Linked DNA regions of Homo sapiens: region 1 is linked to region 2. The links come from fine-mapping of genetic effects on gene expression. A gene starts in region 2. The other region holds a variant in brackets. All regions are shown on one strand. Distances are between the middles of the regions.

Region 1 (4,388 bases), 23 kb before region 2:
GCAGCTGTCTTTATCTCATTCCTCTGAAAAGTCAGTCCTACTCCGTAGGCCTTATTTTAAAATTTGTGTTTTTGAGAAGGTCCCCAAAGCCTGGTCTGAGTGTCGGTGCATGCCTTACATAAGCCTCTAATTGTTTTGTTTTCCCAAAAAGCTATATGGGAAGCTTTTTTTGAGATGGCAAAAATCTCTGTTCCAGCCCCCTTTTCAGATGAAAAATCCTAGGCCCCAGCGGTCAATTTGGTTGATATCAGCTAGCTAAGGAGTGACCCCGCTGGGGATGGAGCTGGCCCAGAATTGCCTGGAAAGCAGAGATTGGGCTCATTCAGGCCCCAGGAACACTCCAGTGCCAGGGGATGGGAAGGCATTGGTGAGCACAAGCAGGCGCCATCCTCCTGGAAGCCAGGTAACTAGAAGTTACCCTCTGGAGCAGGTTACTCTCTGGGGTATTGACTGTGGAGATAGGGCAGCATGGGGCTGTGGGGACAGCCAGCCTAGTCTGGAGGGGCCAGAAGAAATTTTCTGTAGGAAGCAGATCCAAGCTGAGAGCCAAGGCCTGAATCTAGTTTGTGAACAGCTGGAGCGGTGCCACACACAGTGAGCACAGCCAGGTAAGGCCTGGTGGACACAGGACACACGCATCTCTTCCAGTCCCACTTAGCAAGACAGGTAGAGACACACACAGGCATCTGGTGGCTTTTGGCCTCCAGTTCTCACCCAGGTCTTCTCGTTTCAGAGTGTATGACAACGTCCTCAAGGATGCCGTAGCCGTCAAGAGCCAGGCCTTGGCAATGGTGCCCGGCACACCCCCCACCCCCACTCAAGTGCTGTTCCAGCCACCAGCCTACCCGGCCCTCGGCCAGCCAGCGACCACCCTGGCACAGTTCCAGACCCCCGTGCAGGACCTATGCTTGGCCTATCGGGACTCCTTGCAGGCCCACCGTTCAGGGAGCCTGCTCTCGGGGAGTACAGGCTCATCCCTCCACACCCCGTACCAACCGCTGCAGCCCTTGGATATGTGTCCCGTGCCCGTCCCTGCATCCCTTAGCATGCATATGGCCATTGCAGCTGAGCCCAGGCACTGCCTCGCCACCACCTATGGAAGCAGCTACTTCAGTGGGAGCCACATGTTCCCCACCGGCTGCTTTGACAGATAGGCCACCTCCAGACCTCACGAGGAAGCCTTGGAGATGTGGGCAGAGGAAGAGGACACTGAAGAGGAGAGCTCAGCCAAGTGAGGCAGCAGGAGGCCATCCCTGAAGAGCCTTGGAACGTGGAGGGTCTGTGCTCCTTTTAAATAAAACTGACCCAGAGCAAAACATTCAATAACATACCTCACCCGAGAGCATTCCTCTGAGAAACGTCTGCCACGTGTGGCTAGGGTACAAAAGGATGGCTTGGTGGCCGTCCCCCCACACAGGGGCCCAGTGAATCGAGAAAGACTTGATAAGAGGCCAGGAGAGTGGGAACTGGACACAGACCACTGATCTCAAGCATGTCCAGTTTTTAGCATTAAAGACTTTTCTATTCTTTGCTGATGGCAGCTACACCGCTGAAAAAGGAGGGGCAGCCTGGCGTGTTCTCAGGACCCCCGGAGGATCCCATATTGGGTGCTTTTCTTTCCCTGGCTCTATGCAGAGGGGCCTGAGTTGGTGTGTATGCCTGAGTGTTTGCCTTGCGAGGCACAGTGGGTGGCTGTCTTGCCTTTGTTTTCGAACCTAAAACCATTTTCAGCCTTTTAGATATGTCATGTGCTGCTGCTTCCCGAAGTGGTCTTGCTTTCTGTTTCGTAAGATGTCTTGTTTACACACTGTATCAGGGATTTGGTGATACTTGAAAATTCCTTTGGAGAAAAAAACAAATTTAATTGCCACACTGCCTGTCCCACATGAGGGCTGTTAATTT[G/A]GAACCCAAGTTTGAACCCAACTTGTGATGGACCCGCAGGTAACCACAGAGCTTCCTTTTTGAAGGCATATGGTTGGAGAGAACCATTTTCCCAGCTCTCGGTTCCGGAAGATTCCACGTCTTGGAGGCTGTGTTCACCACTAGAACTTTAATAACTACCCAGGGAGGGAGAAGCTCGTTGAAAGGAAGACAAAGATTTAAACAGTTCCCACCTCTCTCCACCACATACTTACAGGGCATGAGTTTAACCCAGTCTAGGCTTTGAGTGTGGCTGATAGCGAAGGATAGCAATGTGGAAAATTTGCTTAGTCCCACCTGTATTTGGGGAGTGGGATGTACATGGGCGTTTGATACCACCATTGATAGGCAAGCGACTGGTTGGATCAAAAGCCAGTATTTAGGGATCTGCAGCGAGAGGGCCCTCAGGAAGACTCTTGTAACCATGTGCAATATGTTTTTATTCTGACTCGCAGCTTGTGCTCAGCATGTTCTTTGGTTTAGTTTGGGGTTGGGGGACACATTGTTCACCCAGCAGAACTGGGAGGTGCAAAGGACCGTGGAAGCAATTTTTGTTTTGTTTGAGGAATACCTGTCTTGGATTCCTTAGCCCCTTGCCAGTCCTGGAGACTGTGGCAGGGGCCGCCAGGAAGGCAGCTGTCTGCTGCTGAGTCAGATCGGAAGGTGGTGAATCTTTCCAGAGCAGCTGAAAATCTCAGCATGGAGACAGTAAGAAAAGAGACGGGGTGTGGATAAGACTCTGCCACCGTGTCACACTAGCATAGGAGGCTGCACGTTCATTTGTTGTTGTTTTTTTTTCCTTTGCCAACCTCCGTTCTATTTATGTGCAAGCAGTTTGGATTCAAGTTCTTGTATCTGTCTGTTCTGGGACCTGGGGATTGTGAGGGTTCCCTCACAGCCAGCACGACCCCCAGAAAGAGGCGTCCCACAATAAACACGTCACCTGCTCTTGATCTCTCACCTCTTGTCCTAGGCATCCCCTCTTGGGCCGGCCCCTCCTTCCCTCTCTCAAATCAGCCCTGGTGAGCATCTCCCTATGGTAGAGGGTGGAATATTGGGGGCAGCAGCAAGACCTCGGGAGCTGAGTCCTGCCCTCTGAGTAGGAGCTGGGCCTCCCTGGGCACACAGAGGCCAGCGGAGGGGTGTATAAGGCTTGACACCCCAGCTCCATCACCGTCTCAGGGTTTTTCCAAAGAAACCAGTAGGATATATATGGAGAGAGATTTATTTTAAGGAATTGGCTCATGTGATTGCAGAGGCTGTGGTCTAAAATTTGTGGGGCATGTCAGCAGGCTGGAAATTCAGGTAAGAGCTGATGTTGCAGTAGAGTTCAAAATCTGTAGGGCAGGCCCACAGGCTGGAAACTCAGGCATGATTTCTGTGTTAGCAGTCGTGAGGCAAAATTTATTCTCCAGGAAACCTCAATCTTTGCTCTTACGACCTTTTACCAGTTGGATGAGGCCCACCCACATTATGGAGGCTTTTCTTAAAGTCAACTGATTGTAAATGTTAATCACATCTAAAAATACCTTGACAGCAACATCTAGACTAGTACCTAGCCACACAACAGGCACTGTAGCCTAGCCAAGCTGCCACATAAACTTAATGATCACACCACTTACCAGCTGTTGGAAGGCAGTTGACCCAACCTCTCTCTGAGCCTCCATCTTGTCACCTGTTAAAATGGGAGTGATAACACCTTGCCTCATAGGGTTCTTAAGAGGATTAAATAACATAATGTACATCAAGGCCAGTACCTCCAAAAAAGGAGATAATTATTATATTTCTTCAAGCATAAGATCAGCTTTTTGTAAGATGCACTATTATTTTATGCACTAATAAGACTTTTTAGAAAACTAAATCATGAGGCAGTTTGCAAGATACCATTGATTATATGTTGCATTCTGATTTCAGAAGCGTTACATGTCAAAATATGTATATGTAGAATTGATGAGATATAGCATCAGCTGTTATGAAAAATGTCAGATTCGTACTCCTCCTTGAAGGGAGTCTCACTCAAGACTTCTGTCTTGCCCTCTACCTACCCAGCTTCCAGCAGGAGAACCACCCCAGAGAGCCGGTGTCACTGTGGGGCTGAGACATTTGCTAAGTGCAGATGCCTTTGATTAGACAATTAGGGGAGGAATGGGAAGATGAGCTCAGGGCCTGAGGCTGCAGCCCAGACCCAGGAGTGTGTTTGACACCGCCAAGGGCGGGGCTGAGGGCAGTGCTCACCACCCGCTGTGTGCAAGGCTAGGTGAGGCAGGAAGCTCTAAGTTTTGGGGATTCAGAGACAAGGCAAGTCTTGGGTTGACCAAGAGCACCCACCTCACTTTGGACAAATCCCTCCCTCTTTGGGCTTCCATTTCTCCATCTGTTACTATGGAGATGGTCAAGTTGGTGGATGGTTCTAAGCTCTTGGGGCGGGGGGAGACTGTGCCACAGAGGCTGTGACCTCTGTGGCCTTC
Region 2 (4,388 bases):
CAGTGCCTGAGACAGCTAATACGTGCTGTGAGCCATGTGGCTGGGGAAAGTCCCTATCTCTCTGAGCTTCAGTCTATTCATCCACAATATGGAGATAATAAGGCCCATCCCAAAAGGCTGTTACAAGAATTATATTCAATGTGAGTGTGTTTGTGAAGCTCCTGGCACATGGTGGGTGCTCATCAATAATAACCAAGCTTCTGATAGTAATATAAATATAACTGAATCTTGCCAAGCTCGCGAAGTTCTGGAATGAATGAGACTTTCAAGACCAGGTATGGTGGTTCATGCCTGTAATCCCAGCTCCTTGAGGGCCCGAGGCAGGCAGATCGTTTAAGGTCAGAAGTTCGAGACCAGCCTGGCTAACATGGTAAAACCCTGTCTCTACTAAAAATACAAAAAAATTATCTGGGCATGGTGGCAGGTGCCTGTAATACTGGCTACTTGAGAGGCTGAGGCAAAAGAATCACTTAAACCCTGGAGGCAGAGGTTGCAGTGAGCTGGGATCGCGCCACTGCAGTTCCGCCTGGGCTACAGAGCAGGACTCCGTCCCCTCCTCCCTGCCAGAGAAAGACTGTGTCTTCTAATACTTTTATTTTACAGATAAGGAAGTGAGCACCCAGAATGGGAAAGGGACTTCCCAGTATTTCACTGAAATTTAATGACCGAATCAGGTCTAGAACCAAAGTGGGCTCACTTCCCATCCCACAACACGAGGCTGTTATAGGTGAAGCCAAGTCATTGCTCCTTCAGGGCCACTGCCAATACATGACTCAGAGGGACTCTCGACTCCTCAAGGCCCCAAGGCACAAGGGCCCTGGTCTCAGGGTTGCTCTGAGCCAGCTGGCAGGCAAGAAGTGGCCACCAAGAGGGAGGGCACGGGTCCCCTTGAGCTGTCCTCTGAACCTTGAGAGTTACACTGCCTGAGACTTTTTAGATAGTGAGATACTGAGATTTCCACAAGATTGTCAGATCCACTGTCTCATTGGTTCCTCACAACAGACTGGTGTTACAAGTCAAGCAGTGAGAGAAGGAATGAAATCACTGGTCTCTCTGCCCACAGTGTTTGGCACAGTAAGAGGCCTGTGTTTGCTGAATGACTGTGTGAAGAAGTGACTTGTCAAACCTGGTCTCCATGCTAACCCTTTGGTTTCCTCTCCCAGGCAGGATGTGGTGACACCACTCATCACAGGGTCCTGGGTGCCAATGGCCTCTGCCACTGACTTGGGCAAGTCACGCTGAGTCCCCATTGGTAACACTGAGATAGCCTTGCATATAGCTGGTGTTCAATAAATGTTTGATGGGCTGGGCTCGGTGGCTCACGTCTGTAATCCCAGCATTTTGGGAGGCCGAGGTGGGTGGATCACCTGAGGTTAGGAGTTCAAGACCAGCCTGAGCAACAGGGTGATACCCCGTCTCTACTGAAAATACAAAAAATTAGCCAGATGTGGTGGCACATGCCTGTAGTTCCAGCTACTTGAGAGGCTGAGGTAGGAGAATTGCTGGAACCCAGGAGACGGAGGTTGCAGTGAGCTGAGATCATGCCACTACACTTCAGCCTGGGAGACAGAGCAAGACTCCGTCTCAAAAATAAATGAATAAAAATAAATACATGTTTGACTAAATAAACATCAAATCTCTACTTCACCAACCAAGTCTCCACTTTACCAATTACTAGCTGTGTGACTTTGGACTAGTTAATTCCCTGGGCCTCAAGTTTTCCATCAGTAAAGTGGAAATACTAATATATTCTATGTGTGTTTTAAAGTCAAAGAGTGTCTATGCTGGGTGCGGCAGCTCACGCCTGTAATTCCAGCACTTTGGGAGGTCGAGCTGGGTGGATCACCTGAGGTCAGGAGTTCAAGACCAGCCTGGCCAACATGGTAAAACCCCATCTTTACTAAAAAAATACAAAAAAAAAAAATTAGCCGGGCGTGGTGGTGCACACCTGTAATCCCAGCTACTCGGGAGGCTGAGGCAGGAGAATTACTTGAACGTGGGAGCCGAAGGTTGCAGTGAGCCGAGATGGTGCCACTGCACTCCAGCCTGGGAGACAGAGTGAGACTCTGTCTCAAAAATAAAATAAAATAAAATAAAATAAAATAAAATAAAATAAAATAAAATAAAATAAAATAAAATAAAAAAGTTAAAGAGTGTCTTAGTTCTTATTATCCTCAGAGCCTGGGAGAAAGCAGTTGCTCAACAAATGTGTGAATGAATGAATGAGTGAGTGAGTGAATGAATGGATGAAATCCTGTCCCATTCTACTTTAGGGTTCCTGGCCCAGAGCTGGCTGTGACAAACCAACCCCGAGGAAGGGATACCCAGGAGCTCACTCACCAAGGAGCTTCATGAACTCATCATAATTCTTCTCACTCTCCATCTCGAACTTGCCGGTGAAAGCCATGCTGCTGGGAGGCTGGAGGCCAGAGAGCAGAGGGATGAGGAGAATGGGTGGTGCTGAGGGGTCTGCTATCCCAGCTTATAAACTCTCCCAGTTGCTGAGGCTCAGCCCCTAAGTCACCCCACTTCTTCTCCCTCCTGTCCTGAAGAGGAAGCACTTGCTGTTTTATGATGTGGGCAGGACCTGGAGGGACAGAGCCCCGAGGTTATTCACCCTGGGGAAGTGCTGTCACCCCATTGCCAGCAGGGTCAGGATGGCAACGGGTTTGAGGAGTCATCACCTCTCTGCCCATCTCTCCCTCCGTTCCCGCATGCCCTGCCCTCAACCCATGCTCTCACCATCTCTCATCACTCTTGCACCCTCTAACTCTGCAGCCAAAGCACTTGAGCACTTGCTGCATGCAGGGCCAGCACTGAAGAAACACAGATGAACGAGACACACACCTTTCCCAAAAGAGCCTTTGGTTTAGTCCAGAGACAAGCACACACCTGCAGAGAGTTCTTGTGTAAGCAGGATGTGATGTGCCCCAGGAGAAAAGCAGATGGCTGACCTGGAGCATGGGGAAGGAGCAATGGTGTCCAGCGCAGGGCTAGTGCATGTTTGGGGAGGAGGTGGCATTTGGCACCCGTCTTGGAGGACCAATAGGACTTGGATGTGTAGAGAAGCAGGAAGGTTGGAGGAGGCTGAGAACAAAGGGAGACGATATTCTAGGACGAGGGAACAGTGTGACGAAGATGGAAAGGGCCATGATGAAAGGAAACAATGAGTTTAGCTGGAGCAAAGCAAACTTGAAGGAGAACAGATGCTCCTAAGGGTGCAGATAATGCAACCAGAGTAAAGCAGCCACCCATGGGCCTAGGCAGCGCACCTGGAGGAGAAGGTGCCAGGTGCCTTGAAGATGCCTGTGCACCAGGCACTGGGCTGGATGCTGGATGAGTTTTATTTTGTTCAAGCTTCAGAGCTGGAAGGGGTTAGGGGTTCAGAATCTTGACTTCCATTTCCTGCTGTGTCTCTCAGTACCACTTCACATGCAGGGACTCTATCTCCTCCGTGATCACTCCGGCCTACCCATCTTGTGAGAATGTCCTCTGCATTGGGCAAAATTGACAGTGCAAAGTATAAAACACTCTGCAAAGGCTCTCGTGATTATTATGTATTTATTTATTTTTGAGATGGAGTTTCACTCTTGTTTCCCAGGCTGGAGTGCAAAGGTGTGATCTCGGCTCACTGCAACCTCCGCCTCCCGGGTTCAAGCAATTCTCCTGCCTCAGCCTCCAGAGTAGCTGGGATTACAGGCATGCACCACCACACCCAGCTAATTTTGTATTTTTAGTAGAGACGGGGTTTCTCCACGTTGCTTAGGCTGGTCTCAAACTCCCAACCTCAAGTGATCCGCCTGCCTCAGCCTCCCAAAGTGCTGGGATTACAGACGTGAGCCACCACACCCGGCCAATTATTATTATTAATTCAGGAAACCTCTGCACGTCTATTTCCTTTTCCCAGGCTTGCTCTCCATGAATCTCCTTCATTTCCATCTAAAGCTGAATTCAATACAGTTGCTGACTCCCAGACCTGGGACTAAGCGGTCTCTGAACTGATGAAAAACCAACTCTGCCACATTTTACCAGGCTTTAATCTCCAATCTTGGAATTTCTAACTCCAGCCAGGACTCTTACTTTAGTCTAACAGGCAGACAGACAGACAGACAGACACACACACACACACACACACACACACACACGTCATGGATTTTTTTAAGTTATATATATAAAAATTTCAAATAATTCAGAGCAAGTGAGAGTCCTGTCAGAGGTGGCCTGTGATAGTAGTTTGGTACCTCTCCTTCTAGGCTTTTTCTTTCCTTTTCTTTTTTCCTGAGACAGGGTCTCTCTTTGTCGCCCAGGCTGGAGTGCCGTGTGTGATCTCAGCTCACTGCAGCCTTAACCTCCCAGGCTCCAGTGATCCTCCCAAATCAGCCTCCCAA

Direction of the effects. Alleles are on the strand shown, and positions count from the first base shown. SD is a standard deviation of normalised expression in the study named.
As copies of G replace A in region 1, the expression in cerebellum of the gene that starts at base 2,459 in region 2 goes down (moderate effect, 0.47 SD a copy in GTEx).

What was found. PIP is the estimated chance that this variant, and not a neighbour inherited with it, causes the effect. A credible set is the group of variants that fine-mapping cannot tell apart.
Region 1: its variant is the best candidate, but not a certain one, in a credible set for the expression of FABP6 in cerebellum (GTEx, PIP 0.51).

The regions. Positions count from the first base shown.
Region 1 is chr5:160,250,144-160,254,531 of GRCh38, reverse strand. CCNJL (cyclin J like) reads left to right here. Exons shown (of 6, transcript NM_001308173.3): 6 at 734-4,388. The coding sequence ends at 1,154. Among named protein-coding and RNA genes, the nearest start is that of FABP6, 23 kb to the right of the region's middle. The variant G/A (reference allele first, on the strand shown) is at 1,903.
Region 2 is chr5:160,227,577-160,231,964 of GRCh38, reverse strand. FABP6 (fatty acid binding protein 6) reads right to left here and starts at 2,459. Exons shown (of 4, transcript NM_001445.3): 1 at 2,341-2,459. The coding sequence starts at 2,407.